Regions from separate parts of the Homo sapiens genome. Here region 2 is linked to region 1. The links come from fine-mapping of genetic effects on gene expression. A gene starts in region 1. The other region holds a variant in brackets. All regions are shown on one strand. Distances are from middle to middle. Region 1 holds the start of TGS1 (trimethylguanosine synthase 1). Region 2 overlaps TGS1 (trimethylguanosine synthase 1).

The links. PIP is the estimated chance that this variant, and not a neighbour inherited with it, causes the effect.
Region 2: its variant is the best candidate, but not a certain one, in a credible set for the expression of TGS1 in regulatory T cells (Schmiedel 2018, PIP 0.55).

Annotation. Positions count from the first base shown.
Region 1 is chr8:55,771,918-55,774,417 of GRCh38, reverse strand. TGS1 (trimethylguanosine synthase 1) reads right to left here and starts at 972. Exons shown (of 13, transcript NM_024831.8): 1 at 699-972. The coding sequence starts at 799. TMEM68 (transmembrane protein 68) reads left to right here and starts at 1,040. Exons shown (of 8, transcript NM_001286657.2): 1 at 1,040-1,149. RefSeq lists enhancers at 534-863, 1,635-2,138 and silencers at 1,004-1,193, 1,284-1,413.
Region 2 is chr8:55,819,793-55,822,819 of GRCh38, reverse strand. All of the region lies in intron 12 of TGS1 (trimethylguanosine synthase 1), which reads right to left. Among named protein-coding and RNA genes, the nearest start is that of TGS1, 48 kb to the right of the region's middle. The variant C/G (reference allele first, on the strand shown) is at 1,421.

The DNA of each region.
Region 1 (2,500 bases):
TTCACTTCCACAAGGATTTAACTCTAACAAAATAAGCATGTGAGATTAAATATACCCGTTATAGAGATGAAAAAAAGGTTCAAGTGGTTTAACTCACGCATTTAATATAAAGGAAACAATTCCTAGAATTCAAGTCTCTTGGCGGTATTATTCCTGCATACTAGCTATTTTTCATGTGGGGCAATTTTTACCTGATTCAAAGATTTCCCCAAAATAAAGATATCACAAAAACTGATGTAAATATGGTTAAGTCTTTTATCTCAACTAGTTTGAAGTTTTAATTATGTGCATTTGGGCTTAAGTAGATTTTTAGGTTTAAAAAAAGACGTTAACCAAAGCAAGTCACTCAACTTTAAACTTTCACTTTATGACATCATATCTACTAGAGATTTCATTTTACATGTCGCTTTCCCCCAATTTTTAAATGTCCCCTCGATTTACAAATATGAGATGACATATAGCACCTACGACATTTTTTCATAGCAGCCTACCAAGTAGATGTAGTCCTTCACATAAAAATAATGGCAGTGGGCGACCACTCCGTCATGTCTGAGGGTTTTGTTTTTCTTAAACATCACCGTGCCCAAGGGTCAGATGTTCTGGCTGCTTTCAGGGATCAATTACAACCACGTTTGCAATACCTACATTTCTGGGTAATGACTGTGCTAGAACATGAAGAGATTCTCTTTTCTACTTACTCCACAAATGCCCTGGAGCAAAGGCACAGTATCTTACAATCCTCCCGCTCCTCAATGAAGAGAAACATTTCCGCCACGCGGCTCCACTTCTCGCAGCACATTTTACCACTTCGGAGGCAGCTCTGACGTACGCAGCCCGGGTCGCGCCTGCCGGGCCTCCGCTCGGTTACTGGAGACTTAAAACAGGCCTCGCCCGCAAGCCCTGGATGAGGAGATAGAAACTGGCCCGCGGCCGCTCGCGCCGGGAACTAGCCCGGACGCTGCCGCCGGAAGTGGCTCCGAGGGGCCACGGGAAGGGGCGGGACCACGGGCGGTGTCACCCCCATCGCGGCCCGGGCTGCAGCCGCCGCTTGGCTTCTTTCACACGGGTTGCTTCGGAGGAATCCGCCGTGCAAATCTGTCCGCCCCCTTGGCCACTGATCCCCCGAAGAGCTTCTGTCGCCGCTCTAGGGTAAAGGAGAGCTGCCCCTGCCCCTGCCCCCGCCTATCCGAGGTGCGTCGGCCCCCGCGCTTCTCCAGCCCGGCATCGGGTCTGGCGGGACTGGGAGCGGCGGAGGCCGCGCGCGTCCGGTCTCCCAGGAGCCGCCTCGGAATCCCCAGTCTCTTCGCGGGCAGGCTCGGCTTCCCGCCGGCCTCAGTGTTGCGCCCCAGCGCCAGAGTGGCCGGGTGTGGAGATCCTCCCTCCTCTGGGTCAAAGAGCCTGCTCTCCCCGCCCCTCTTCTCCCCTGGCGCTCTAAACCTTCGGTTCGGCGCGTTTCATCCTAATGCATCTGGTGGGGCGAGGCGTCTCTAGCCTCTGTAGAGGCCTCTAGGCTTGCCCAGTGGCTTCGCTGGTTCCGGGACCCAGGTCGAGCCTCCGGTGTAAAAGCCAAGGGGAAGTGTGTGGTGATCCCGAGAGTGTAGGGGGAAAGCCGCGTGGGTAGAGCGTTCGTATCCAGACCGATCAGGCTTGGAATCCTGGTCCTACCTTGTGACCTGGGCAGGCAACTTCACCTTTCTGAGCTTACCTTTGATCACCTGTGAAATGGGGTTGATTAATAGTAACTACTACATGAGGCTGCAGGGAGGACTAAACGAAATGATGTATATTACACCTTTCCTTTGTGCGCTTAATCGTTGGCGTCGGTTTGGACCTTGTAGGCGTTAAGTGCTGTCTCGGTCCCTGGGGTTTGCAGCCTGTAAAACAGGTCTCTGCCTTCAAGTTACTAATTATCTAATAAGAAAAAAGTTCATGTGGGCATAAATAGGATGGAGAAAATGGAAACAGCAGCGTTGCTGGATCTGTTAAAAAGCAGTTAGTATTTGGTGTGTGGTATTCATGGAGGCTGCACGGGCAACTTCTTCAGAGACAAGCTCAGACTTGAAAGTTGGAGCGCTTCGGACGTGGTTGGTGCTACGAAATGCCAAAATAGTATTGGTACTTCTTCAGAACTATATAAAAACTGAGCTAAAATTCATGCATTTTGAATGGTATTTTCAATAGTATTTTGGCCACATTTACTAGTTAGTGGAAATATTCATTTTCAAATGTTTATTCCCACCTCCTTACTGCTGCCCTACTTTGAGGTCGGAGATAGGCTGATTTTGTTGGTTCAAGAAGGTAAGAGTGCTGCACGGTTACAGATATACCAGTATAGATGTGCAGCATTATTGGGATGAGTAGCTGGGTTACGATAATAAGGGTAGAACAGTAATTATGAAACAGAGTGGAAGATTTTAGCTAGAAGTTGGGCATTCTAGGATTAAAGAAAAGTCTTGAAGGGTAATTTGTATCAGAACCTCGAGTTTAAAGCTTGAAATAA
Region 2 (3,027 bases), 48 kb before region 1:
AAAGTCAGACACAGAAATAGGGAAGAAGCAACCAGTCATTCTATGGTACCTTATTATGTGAAAATAAGTCAAATACAGTATTCCTTATAATGATTAAAAGCACCCCCCCCACTATTTTTTTTTGTAAGGAATACTTAAAGTAAAACTAGAAATTTAAAAATAGCAAAGTAGTCTCAGAGTAGCAATTATTAGGAATAAATGTTTTAAATTCTATTTTGGTATCTTTATGCCAGTCTGGTTTTTTTACAAGAAAGGGGGAAAAAAAAAAAAGGTATTTTGTCTTTAGCCAATAAAAGGCATTTTGAACAGTTTATCATTTTTTCACAATAATTTTTCTTTGAGTTGAGATATAACTCAAATGTAGCATTTCTGCTGTGCCCTTTAACAAATAACTTAAAAATCCCCAGTTCTACCAATAATTTGCTGCATTAATTTAAAAAGCCATTTTTAGGCCGGGCGCTGTGGCTCATGCCTGTAATCCCAGCACTTTGGGAGGTCGAGGAGGGTGGATCACGAGGTCAGGAGATCGAGACCATCCTGGCAAACAAGGTAAAACCCCGTCTCTACTAAAAATACAAAAAAATTTGCTGGGGGTGGTGGCGGGCGCCTGTAGTCCCAGCTATTCGGGAGGCTGAGGCAGGAGAATGGCGTGAATTCAGGAGGCGGAGCTTGCAGTGAGCTGAGATCGCACCACTGCACTCCAGCCTGGGCGACAGAGTGAGACTCTGCCTCAAAAAAAAAAAGAAAGAAAGAAAAAAAAGCCAATATTGTTGTTGTTAAGAAAGCCATTAAAATAGGCTTTTTTTGGCTTTCTAAATCCGAAAATATGAATACTGTCTATCTCCCTAAAAGAGCATTTTAAAGAAAAGAAAAACCATTTCTGAAGTTTACTTGAAAAAAAAAATAAAGGTACTATAAATATAGTTATTATTATTATTATTTTTTGAGATGGAGTCTCGCTCTGCTGCCTAGGCTGGAGTGCAGTGGCGTGATCTCGGCTAGTACTGCAAGCTCTGCCTCCTGGGTTCATGCCATTCTCCTGCCTCAGCCTCCCGAGTAGCTGGGACTACAGGCGCCCGCCACCACACCCGGCTAATTTTTTGTATTTTTAGTAGAGACAGGGTTTCACCGTGTTAGCCAGGGTGGTCTCGATCTCCTGACCTCGTGATCCACCCACCTCGGCCTCCCAAAGTGCTGGGATTACAGGCGTGAACCACCGTGCCTGGCCGATGGTTATTATTTCTTATATAAGCCATAAATAGAATTCCATAAAAACCAATTTCTGAGAAGGTAGGGTAGTTTTGTTTTTCTTAATACCTTTCAGAGGGTTGTCTAGATGTGGGTGCTTGGGATTAAAATAAAAAACGGAGGTAAGATGGGGGTTTTCTCAGAAATCATGAGTTCTGAAGTCTGTGCAAAA[C/G]AGTTCATAAATTACTTTACTCAATAACTATTATTGAGAGCTTATAGGTATCTGTTCTAGGCAGTGCAGTATAGCAAAAAACAAACAAGAAATCCCCACCTCCATGAATTTTACATTCTGGCTGGGAGAGTCAGATGACGGACAAATAAAACAAATATTGTTCCTGATAATGGAGAAGGTGGTGTATCTATGTGACAAAATATAGTGAGAAAACTCTTATGTACTTAGTGTTTAGAAACAATTTTTTTTTAAAAACTTAACATGTTACTTTCAAGTGTTCTGATTACGAATAATTTCTAACTTTAGCCTTTTTGTACGTTTTCACATTTTCACAACTACATATATGTTAAAAGTTAGAATTTTGGAGTTGGAAAGACTTATAAATTTAGTAGTTCAAGCAAATAACTTTGCTTCAGGCAAATTTAATGAATGCCATTAATTTCTAGCTGTCCTTATTTTTCACTAGAAGGTTTAGCTGACAAAATATTATTTGGTTCCCTCCGCTTTCTTAGAATTTAGTAAATTGTGAGAGGAAGAGAGGGTAGGAAGGACAGAGAGAGGGAGAACGGCAGGTACAAACAGATAAAGATTAGCAGCTCTGGATTACTTTCCACATTTTTGGCATATTACCTAAATATATTAATTTTACCAAAATAAATCCCAATTAATTTGGACCAGAACTAGAATTAAGGACTGAACTCTTGACTAGATTTGACATCAGGCAGTAAAGCTGTTCTTTGGGGACTGGCAAAGGAGAAACAGAAAAGATCACAATGAAGGTGTTAAAGCACAGAAGATTTAAGCATCAAATAAAAAGGTAAACATTCAAAACTGCACTTTTTTTTTGTTTTGTTTTGTTTTTTGAGACGAGTCTGGCTCTACCGCCCAGGCTGGAGTGCAGTGGCATGATCTCGGCTCACTGCAACCTCTGCCTCCTGGGTTCAAGCGATTCTCCTGCCTCAGCCTGCCGAGTAGCTGGGATTACTGGCGCACCTGGCTAATTTCTGTATTTTTAGTAGAGACAGGGTTTCACGATGTTGGCCAGGCTGGTCTCAAAACTCCTGACCTCAGGTGATCCGCCCGCCTCGGCCTCTCAAAGTGTTGGGATTACAGGCTTAAGCCACTGCGCCTGGAGCAAAACTGCATTTTTTCAAGAGAAACTGGATTTAAAGTAAAAGTGCACGATAACCGAATGAGAGAAAATAACCTCCCAACTGCATCCTACTGGAAGAATAGATAATAATTACTAATGACAGATACACTTTATTACAAGAAAGACACAGAAACATCAGAGCGCTGAAAAATGCCCTATTACTACATGGAAGAGATTATATCTATGATACGCAGAAATGTGGTTAGAAGATAATTGTACCAGGTAAAAATAAAGAGCATTTTATGTGGCCTTCAGATCTGTGTCAAATACAATGCTAGCAGCAGCAAGCATCTGAAATACTGGCTGTGACTACAAACCTAATGTCACACAGGCCAAGAAAGTGCTTTGCCACTAGTTATTTTTGTCCCTCTTTTCTTTTGCTAGATCCAACTAATAACCACATGAAAATAAAACAAAGTTGGCAAAACATTTCTGGTAATTAAAAGTTCTCTGG